2 separate regions of the Homo sapiens genome follow, and region 2 is linked to region 1. A link means that fine-mapping ties the variant in region 1 to the expression of a gene that starts in the linked region. Tissue or cell type: whole blood. Region 1 holds a variant in brackets; the other region holds the start of a gene. All regions are shown on one strand. Distances are from middle to middle.

Evidence for each region. PIP is the estimated chance that this variant, and not a neighbour inherited with it, causes the effect.
Region 2: CBX6 starts here. The variant in region 1 is fine-mapped to the expression of CBX6 in whole blood (TOPMed, PIP above 0.99).

The regions. Positions count from the first base shown.
Region 1 is chr22:38,932,397-38,937,591 of GRCh38, forward strand. No RefSeq gene overlaps it. Among named protein-coding and RNA genes, the nearest start is that of APOBEC3A, 23 kb to the right of the region's middle. RefSeq lists an enhancer at 3,927-4,748. The variant C/G (reference allele first, on the strand shown) is at 2,543.
Region 2 is chr22:38,869,422-38,874,549 of GRCh38, forward strand. It overlaps CBX6 (chromobox 6), which reads right to left and starts at 2,795. Exons shown (of 5, transcript NM_014292.5): 1 at 2,701-2,795; 2 at 2,481-2,524; 3 at 2,271-2,336; 4 at 2,059-2,125. The coding sequence starts at 2,769. RefSeq lists silencers at 2,417-2,466, 2,567-2,716, 2,747-3,006 and enhancers at 3,001-3,551, 3,552-4,101, 3,938-5,128, 4,954-5,128.

The DNA.
Region 1 (5,195 bases):
TATTTTGTTATAGCAGCCCCAATGGACGAAGACAATGGTCATGTTATCTGCAGACAAAGACAGCTTTATTTCCTTGCTCCTGATCTGTATACCTTTTATTTCTTTTCCTGTCTTATTGCATTAGTTAGGACTTCCAGTAAGATGTTGAAAAGCAGTGTGAGAGAGGGGGCATCCTTGCTTTGTTCCTGATCTTAGTGGAAAAGCTTCTAGTTTCTCAATTTGCCTCAATTTTCACAGCTGGTATTTTGTCACTGGCTACTGGCTACCTGCTATGACTATTTCCCCTAATAAGTTAAGATTCGTTTCAATACAATGTATAACTCTTGAAGCTGGTGACTTTTAGGGAGGCATTGTTAAACAAATGCAAATAGTAAATCCATTTTATCATGAAAGCTGAATTTGATTTAGCATGCTCAGTTGCCAACTCCCTTTATCCATAATCTCCCTTTGCATGGAATAATTTTGAAACCTATTTGATTCAATGTTATTTTTTGAAGTATTTTCAGTTTTTGAATTCAGTGACACCTCTTCAATTAAATTTGCCTGTCTACCAATGACCACAGGATTGGACTCTAATCTTGCAAACTATCTGAATTTGCCTAGTGCTTGTATTCTGGGCAACTTGCAAACTTCCCAAGACTTCTATTTGTATAATGAAACAGGATACAGTTGTCACACTTTGAATCTGTGGTTATTTAATCTGATTCTGGAGCTCACTTGAGCACAATTAGAGGAAAGACTCTAAGAAGATTTAGTTTTTTTAAAAGAATGAGCCAAACATTTCAGGCTACAACAGTCAACCCTATATAGATAACAAACAATGTCTACCATCTCAAGCCTCCCAAAGTTGCAATGCCGGGGCTACCATTTGTGCTCTCTGAGTGGTGGCTGGACAAACTTGGGCAGCTAACCTTTACAATCCTACGTGCCTTCCAAATTTAAAAAAAAAGAAAAAAACAAAACAGACAAGAATTAGTGATTATAAACTCATACTTGCAGGCTTGAGGTAGACGCTATCCTGCGTGTTTTGTAAACTGGTGATATTTTACCAAGGGCCGAGGTAGGAGGAAATGGAAATTTGGTGTTTAATGGCTACAGAGTTTCCATTTGGGATGATGAAAAAGTTATGGAGATGGACGGTGGTGATGGTTGCACAACACTGTGAATGTACTTAATGGTGAATTTGATGTTGTGTGTATCTTACTATACATTACTTTTGTTTTTATTTTTATTTTATTTTTTTGAGACGGAGTTTCACTCTGTTGCCCAGGCTGGAGTGCAGTGGTGCAATCTCGGCTCACCGCAACCTCTGCCTTTCGGGTTCAAGCGATTCTCCTGCCTCAGCCTCCCAAGTAGCTGGGATTACAGGCGCGTGACACCACGTCTGGCTAATTTTTGTATTATTAGTAGAGACAGGGTTTCACCATGTTGGCCAGGTTGGTCTCGAACTCCTGACCTCAAGTGATCCACTCGCCTCGGCTTCCCATAGTGCTGGGATTACAGCGTGAGCCATTGCGCCTGGCCCATGCCACACTTTTTTAAAAGGCCTTCTGTGTGCTGATTCTGCTGCCTGCTCACCCCTGTTTCTGCTCCTCTTGGCCCTAAGGCCACCTCCCTGAAGCAACAGCAGGTTGCAGTTTCTGGCCTCTCCTCTCCCACACCTGGCTTCTACTCGCCTCTCTCCTCTGCTCGGCTCTGCTTTCTGCCTGCCATGCCTTTCTCTTCCTCTTCACCTTCTCATTCCACTCCCATCTTTCTGACTTAGGAACTGAACATTTGGGAATCAGATGCCCAATGAAAACCAGCTGTGGGAGTCATAGACGGTCTCAGCCCTTCCCCTCTCTTTTCTTTTCATTTGCAGCCAAGTAGCCATTAAGTCAAAAGGCACGGGGCAGGATCTGGGGACCCTGGAATTAATTATTGACATTTACCTTGGCTTGGCCCCCAGCAGCTTTGATGCAAACTCCACCCTTGTTGGGAGCCCCATCCCCTGCCCCACACCACCCAAGAGCATTTCTTTTCTTTTCCTTTTCTTTTTTTCTTTTTTCTGTTTTTTTTTTTGAGACAGAGTCTCGCTCTTTTCGCCCAGGCTTGAGTACAGTGGCGTGATCTCAGCTCACTGCAACCTCCGCCTCCTGGGTTCAAGCGATTCTCCCTGCCTTAGCCTTCGGAGTAGCTGGGATTACAGGCGCCCACCACCACGCCTGGCTAATTTTTTTGTATTTTTAGTAGTGATGGGGTTTCGCCTTGTTGGCCAGGCTGGGCTTGAACTCCTGACCTGAGGTGATCCGCCCACCTTGGCCTCCCAAAGTGCTGGGATTACAGGCATGAGCCACCATGCCCAGCCCTTAATAATGTTTTCTGATGATAAAAACAACACTCCCTCATCACAGGCAATTTGAAAAGCAGAGAAAAGTTGCAAAAGGAAATTATCCCTATTACCACCTAGAGATGGTGAATACTTGAATTTTTTGTTTAAACTTTGAATTTTATTTCAAATTGACAGAAAATTGCATAGAAAGAGGATCCGTATACCCTTTAC[C/G]CAGATTCATCAGCTGTGAACATTTCCCCGGTATGCTTTAACCCTGTGTTTGTTCTATCAATCATGTGTTTCTCATTCGGATTATAAAATTGACACTTTGCTCTATTCTAGTGTTCCTCAGCTTTGGTCTCTTTGGTGTTTGACCACGATTATGTGACAGATGGAGCCTGGCCACCATGTCCCTGGCTGTACCCCAGGCCCCAGCCTAGCCCTCATTTGCACCATGGGGTGTGATCATCCCCAGCTCCCGGGCACCGTGCCATGGCAAAGTCAGGTGTGGCCATGCCAGGGCTGCGGGCAGCCTGCCAACAAGACTGCAGGTTCTGCCTTTATAGCAGGGCGTGCACCAGCGCTTCACTGTTCCTGCCTTCTGTCCTTGTGACCTTGTAAGATAAGGGCGTTGGGCAAGGAAAGTGCAGGTAGGAGCAAGGGAAATGAAGGAGATGTGAATGAAATAGTTCGATTCAGGTAGATCTGGGCATCACCAGGCCCGAGGAAAGGTGTATTTTCACTGATGAAGGAAACCATGTTTTTGTTGTTGTTGCTGTTGTTGTTTGTTTTTTGTTTGTTTGAGACAGAGTCTTGCTCTGTTGCCAGGCTGGAGTGCAGTGGCGCACTCTCGGCTCACTGCAAACTCCACTTCCCGGGTTCAAGCGATTCTCCTGCCTCAGCCTCCCAAGTAGCTGGGATTACAGGGGCGCACCACCACGCCTGGCTAATTTTTGTATTTTTAGGAGAGACGAGATTTCAACATGTTGGCCAGACTGGTTTTGAACTCCTGACCTCAGGTGATCCGCCCGCCTCGGCCTCCCAAAGTGCTAGGATTACAGGCCTGACCCATCGCACCTGGCCATCGCACCTTAAAACATTTAAGACATGTTTTAAATGCTGAAACCAAATGGCCAACGATCGTATCTAAAAGGGAAGATATAATCAGAGATTTTGAGACATCTTTTAGTTCCCTAGGAATGGAATCCTCCTGAAAATATGGAAGTTGAGTATTCTTTCTTTTTAGTTTTTTCAGCGACGTCGTGGATACAATTTCTTCAGACTTGTTCTACTTTATTCATGTTCTACATTATCAGAGATTCTGTGGATGCATCACTTTAATGACAGTTATAATATTTTAAGCATTGTTAAATTAGATGGCAGTTAGAATAAGAACAATCAGTAAGCTGGACTTAAGGGTTAGTAGAACACTCTTCTCACAGTTGACAGTGTACTCATAGGAAATAGTATAACCTTGGCTGAGGTACCTGCTTTTTGAGTCATAAGATCTGAAATAGGGACATTTTCTGTACATTTTTGTAAAGTTTGCTGAAGTAGTTTAAAACCCATTTTGACATAGTTTCAGTTCCACCTGAATCAGCATTCTGAAAAGAACATTCCAGGGGTTTCCTGAAACTTACAGAGCTGAAAAGCTAGTGTGCCTCCCGGAGTCAGGCTGGAGAAGCAGATTTGGGGGCTGCAGCAGAGGTGTCCTGGCTGGGGTGAAGGGCAGAGCCAGTTCCTGGAGGGAGGGAGCCCAGAGAAAGGGCAGGTGGCCAGGGCTGGGCTAGAGAAGACCTAGAAAGAGGCCAGGAGGAGAGGAGGAGCCTTTAGGGGAAGGAGCCGAGTTCACCACCCTGGAGGTCCCAGGAAGCAGAGAAAAGGTGACGCTGACTCACTGCTGCAGGGGTCGGGAGTACCTGGGTCTCAGCTCTGCCCTTGAGTCCATCACGCTTCGCCTCTGTCTCTGAGTCTGGCCTCTGCATCTTCCCGCTCCCATTACCAGTTTTGTTTGCATTTTCTGTCCCAGGAAGCTCTCTTTGGCCTCTGGAGCTGCGTATATCTGTAGACAGCGGACCCTGCTGCCACATGGCTGGGCCTGCCGCTTCTGTGGCTTGGTCACACTCACATGCACGTACGTGTGCATGAACACGCTCGCACACACCCACATGCATACACGTGTGCACACATGCATGTACAGGCACACACGCACACATGTGCATGCGTGTGTACGAACACACACATGCACACACGCAGAATCAGAAAAGGATCCTGCCCATAGCTCACCCCAGACTCCCCTGGGTGTCGCATCTTGTACCACCCAAAGTCAGGGTGTCCCAGCCCTCTCCAGGAGGCCTTTACTTCCCAGGCTCTGTCATTCCCAGAAGCAGGGGGCTAGCATGTGACAAGGAGTGCTCAGGCTCAGGTATGGTCAGTCTGGGCAGCAGGGACCAAATCCCAGTGGAAAGGCGCAGGCCGGTGAGTGAGTGAAGGCCTGGTGTCCATCTGATGCTTCCAGAGGGCAGGGGCCAGCTTGGACTTATCTGCACCACACAGGGCCCCAGCCCAGGGCTTCCCACGGCATGGGTGAACTGGGTCAGGTGGGCTTCACAAGGTGTGGGAAGAGAGAAGACGCTGGCCTGGGAATTGGCCACCTGGCTTTCTTTCCTGGCCCTATGGAGGGAAGGGAAGGAACATTGAACTCCCCCAAGTCAGGCCCTGGACTGAGTCTCCCACTCAACCGTAGAAGCCATCATGCTGGGAAGTGGTTTTATCCCCGTTGAAGAGAGGACACAGTTCCACTGAGAGGTGAGGTCGTGATGAATGTGTCCATGGGTGTGTGCGTGTGTGTGTGGGTGTGTGCGTGTGGGTGTGTGTGTGGGTG
Region 2 (5,128 bases), 63 kb before region 1:
CACCTGCTCAGCACAGTGCCTGGCACGCAGCAAATAACTGAACAGACCTACCCATGGGTGGTGGACTTATAAGCAGTGATCTTTTTCCAATGTATGCTTGGCATACATTGACATTTCTTACTTTATACTTTCTATATATTATTATTTTTTAAAGGGTTTACCCTTCCTCTTCCTCCCCACATGGAGAACTCTTTGAAAGTGGGACCTGGGTCTGCCTGATGAATTAAAAATAACTGTAGCCAACATGCTTATTGCACCCTGACCAGGTGACAGGCATAGCTCTGTGGGCTTGGCAAGCACCGTAGATGGTGTGAAGGTTTAAGCACCTGAACTCTACCATGGCCTCTCCCCATGTCTGTGGGCAAGTTACTGGACACCTCTGGCCCTGTTTCCCCATGCGTGAAACAGGGAGGATGGAAGCTATCTCATGGGCTCCTGTTTGCTTCAGAGTAGTTCCTGGCAGAAAGCGCTGAGTGTAATTTGCTGACTCTGCCATACTGCCTCTCAGGGAGCCCCAGAACAATGTGTTCAGCCCAAGCTAATCTCCATAGCCCCTCACAAACATCCACATCACTCTCAGGCTACCTGTTTCTTAGGGTCCAGATAAAAAAGTCCTACTATCTGTGTCTCTATCCCCTGCCACGCCAACTCTGCAGCCTTCATAGTTTCCTGTGTGTGTCTGCCTTCCCCCTTTAACCTGACATGGACTACTCAAGGCACAAGATGAAGAAAAGGAGACAGGATGAAGCCAGGAAGCTGGACCTCGGGTAAGTCACTTTCCCTTCCTGGGCCTTGATTTTTTATCTGTGAAATGGGGATAATACTCCTTACTTCTTGGAACTGTTGAAAGAATTAAAGGAGATAATCCATGTGGGGGCTCAGCCCTGTATTAGGCCCACAGCCAGCTCAGGAACCAAAAGAACTATCAAGAAAAAAAGGCGTTCTGTGTATCAATGCTCATGGTCATACTCGCTTCGCCGCTAGAGGGTGCCCCAGCTGCACTGAGAGGCTGTCACACAGCCCACCAGCCTTCCAGCTGCTCCGCCCATCCCTCCCCAAGAGAAGCATCAGGGTTAAGGTTACTCCCTGGATCCCCTAGGATGTGCGTCGCTTGAGGGTGGGGGTTATAAAAATATGAAATTCTGGAAACCAACATTTCTTTCACTTCTGCTTCTCTTCTCCGAAAAAGAGTCCTCCCACAAAGTCACCGGCTGTCGGGTGGGAGGGGGCCCTGAGGCATCCGTAGCACTACAGGAAGACAGGGGGCCCACTGAGTCCCACCTGCAGCCGTGCCTGCCACCTAGGGCCATCTTGCCCTTCCTTTCCCAGACTCTGTTTTTCCTTGTCAAAATAAAATAAAAACCCAAATCCTCCAAGATGGCTTCCTCTGGAAGTTCTTCCCTCCCTAGCAGAGACTAATATGCTATGCTCTCACTCCCACATCCCCATCCCCCAGAAATGGCCGGGAGTGGGGGGAAACTGAGGCTCAGAGCCCTAAAGTTAGTGGCCCAGCCTGGGTGATAAATTCAAAGTAAAATGATTTGAGGTCAAATTCAAGTTGGATCCCCAAGAAAGGAGGGGAGCCATGAAGAACAAATCCTGAAAGACTGAACGGGGGAAGCTGGGGGCAGGGAGGCAGGTGGTCCCCCAAATCCTCTCCTTGTGCCCTGCCAGGAGGTGGGACCCCACTCACTCTCCCCCTGGGTTCCAACTCCCAGCACAGTCATAACAGCTCAAACAAATGCCCCCTTCCCATGGGCATCCCCCACCTGCCTCAGCCACCCCCTTTCCTGGAGCCCTAAAGGCATCCCCAGCCCCTGGTTTCAACAGGGAGGATTATCCCCAGTCCCAAAACCCTCTTGTTGAAGCTGATGCTGGCTGAGGCCTGCCATCAGGGGCTTCTGGGGGGGCTCACAACCACCCCCTGCCCAGCTGGGGCCCCTCTGAAAAGGCCGGCCCGCTTGGGCGGCCGCGTATCTGTCCCTCCCTTCCAGGCCCCGTGCTGTGCCGGGGCTGGGGGCCCGAGAGGGGGATGCTGCTGGGGCTGGGCCAGGTTACCTTCAGGAGGAAAGTTTTGGGTTTGGGTCCCCTCTTCTTGGGCCCATACAGCTCACGCTCCCTCTCCCTGCGGCCGAAAAACACCAGAGGTTAAAAAGAGCCCCTTCCCGGGCCCCACTCCGCGCTGCCCTCCCCGGCTCTCCCGCTTCCCCGCGCGGCGCCCCAGCCGAGCCTCGGCCTCGCAGCCCCTGCCAGCTTCCCCAACAACTCACTTTTGTTCGAAGGCTGCAATGAGCCGCGAGTCCAGGATGTTCTCCTCGGGCTCCCAAGTGCTGTACCTGCCGAGTCACAAACGCACAAAATCAGGATGAAGACCAGAGAGGGACAGGCACGCGGCGAGAGCAAGAGCGCGCACCCCCACCCCAGGCCCCGGTGCCCGCTGCCTCCCCTCCCGCGACGCCCCCGGACCCCGCGACACTCACTTGATCGCCCACCCCTTCCATTTCACCAGGTACTCGATGCGTCCCTGAAAAACAGAGGGGAGAAAAACGGGGGTGGGGGTGGGGAGGATGCGGGGACGCGAGGAGGCGGCGGCGCGGGGCTGGGCGAGGGAGCCGGGCTAGCGGGACCGCTTCGCCCCGAGGGCCCCCGGCCCCGGCCCCGGCTGCGGACAGCGGCGGCCCGCCCCGGGCGGCGGCTCACCTTTCGGATCCGCCGTTTGATGATGGATTCGGCCGCGAAGACCCGCTCGCCCACTGCAGACAGCTCCATCTTGCTCAGCGGCACCCACAGCCCATAATACTCCCTGCGCCCGCGGCCGGTGCGGCACCGCTCGCGCACGCGCCGCAGCGCCCAGGCCCCGGCGGGCGGGAGCGCGGCGGGGCGCGCGCTCGCGTTCCAGCTGCGGGCCGTCACGTGATCCTCGCGGCTGGCGCGCGGTTGCCAGGACCTCCCCCTCCCCCGGGGCGGTTGCTAGGGAAAGTCGGCGCTCGCGGGGCGGGGGCGCGCGCTGGCTCTTAAAGGGGCCGCGCGGGCGGAGGGAGCAATTGCCGGCCGACCCGATGGGTGCCCGGCTTGTGGGCACGCTGCGGCCTTACGCTTATCACCCCCCCTCACATCTTGCCGGCGCCCGATCGCTGACACCCTCTCCTTGCCTCTTAATCCCCACGCGAGTCTCGCCAGGCCCCGGGCGGAGAAGGGCTGTGGAGCCCGAGTCTCGCCGCCACCGCGCATCTCCCGCAGCAGCCTGCAAACAGTTAAATATGATGCAGCAGAAATGCAGTTGCTGTTGCCTTGCCAGGCCTTGCGGGAATTTCTTTAAAACATCGCCCCCCACCCATTATTTATGTATTCGTGGGAGGGTGGTTTTGTAACCAGTTCAGAAGAGTTAAAACAAAAACGCCACCGCAGGAAGGGGGTGTGCGGCGAATGGGGCCGAGGAAGGCCGGAGTGACCGTGGGCATCTGTCTGCGGCCGGGGTCTCGGGCGGCACCTGTCCTCGCCCAGGAGACCGGGGAGGATTCGGCGGGGCCGGTGTGGCAGTGGGGGAGGGAGAGGGACCGCGGGCAGGAACGGGCTCCCCGCACTCCGCCTTGGGCCCACAGCGGGTCATCATCTGGTCATTCGGCAGAAACCGCCTTCGCGGTCATATCTGTGTTTTCCGATTCCCAGCACCCCTCCCGGCCCCCCGACCTGGCCGCGTCCCTCTCCCCGCCCGCAGCTGCGCGAAGCTTCCGCCATTGCTCTGGGGAGCCCAGATCCCAGCTTCCCACTTGAGGAGGGGCGGGGGATCGAGCTGGGGCTGTCCAGGAACGGACACACAAAAAATAGCCCTGCCGCGCAAAACGCTCCACTTTTTAAATGTTGAAATTACTTGAACTTTATTTCCCATTATGTTAGTAGTCTTGTTCTTTGTAAAACAATTTTAAAAATACAGATAAAACAACTGTCCATAACCCCCATAAAACCATTGTTAACATCTTCACCAATCTTCCAGCCTCTGCTCTATGCGTACATAAACTCACGTACACCTATGTATGTATGTATATACATACACATACACATTGTCTGTAGATTTAATTTTTTAACAAAATGGGATCACGCTATTCACACTGTTCTGGAATCTGCTTTTCTCCCTTAATGCTATAAAGTGGACATCTTTCAGTGTCATTAAATACAGATTTCACCATCCTTCCAGTGACCACCTTGGGGCTGAGATGGGGTGGGGAGGAATGGGGATTGTGAAGAGTCAGGGTTGTGTCTTGCGAACATCAATGGCTCATTAGGAAAGATTTTTGCGTTTCTGTGCTACAATGCCAATTCTTGGGTTTCAAATCCACCATAGCAAAATGTTAGTCTTTTTCTCCCAGCAGATTTGTCCAATTATTACCTTGAGAGAAATCCCTCTCCTCACTTAAAATCAGTATGTTCCAGGGAAACAGCTATTTGCTGGCCAGCCCAAGGTGAGCTGCTGTGGTAAAAATAGAAATGTCCTCCTGGGAGATGTGGGTGGTGGTGGGTGAGCAGGTGAGAGGAGTGGGTATGACAGTGTGTGTGTGTTCAGGCTGACGGAGACAGGCGGGGGATGAAGCAGGTGAGTCCACTTGTTGATTCATTCAGCAGTGTTTGTGAGCCCTTGTGAAGCACCAGGCTTTGTGTGAAACCATCAGGAAACAAAGGTGCCCCAGGCTGAGGAGCTGTCAGTGGAGTGAGAACGGCACCTGTCACACAGTGTGACTAATGCTAGAATAAAGGTGTAGGAGTTTCGTGTTGCTGCTCTCACAAATTAACACAAGCTCAGTGGCTTAAAATGACTCACATTTGTTATCTGATGACTCTGGAGGCGGGAAGTCCCAAATCAGTGTTACTGGGCCCAAGTGAAGGTATCCTCAGGGCTGGTCCCTTTTTGGAGGGTCAAGGAGAGTATCTGTTCCGTGCCTCATCCAGCTTCCAAATGTTGCTGGCATTTCTTGGCTCATGGCTTCATCACTCAAATCTCTGTTTCCACGATCCCTTTGCTCACTTCCTGCTTCTTTCTTTCTTTTGTTTTTGTTTTTGAGATGGAGTCTTGCTCAGTCACCCAGGTGGGAGTGCAGTGGCACAATCTCGGCTCACTGCAACCTCTGCCTCC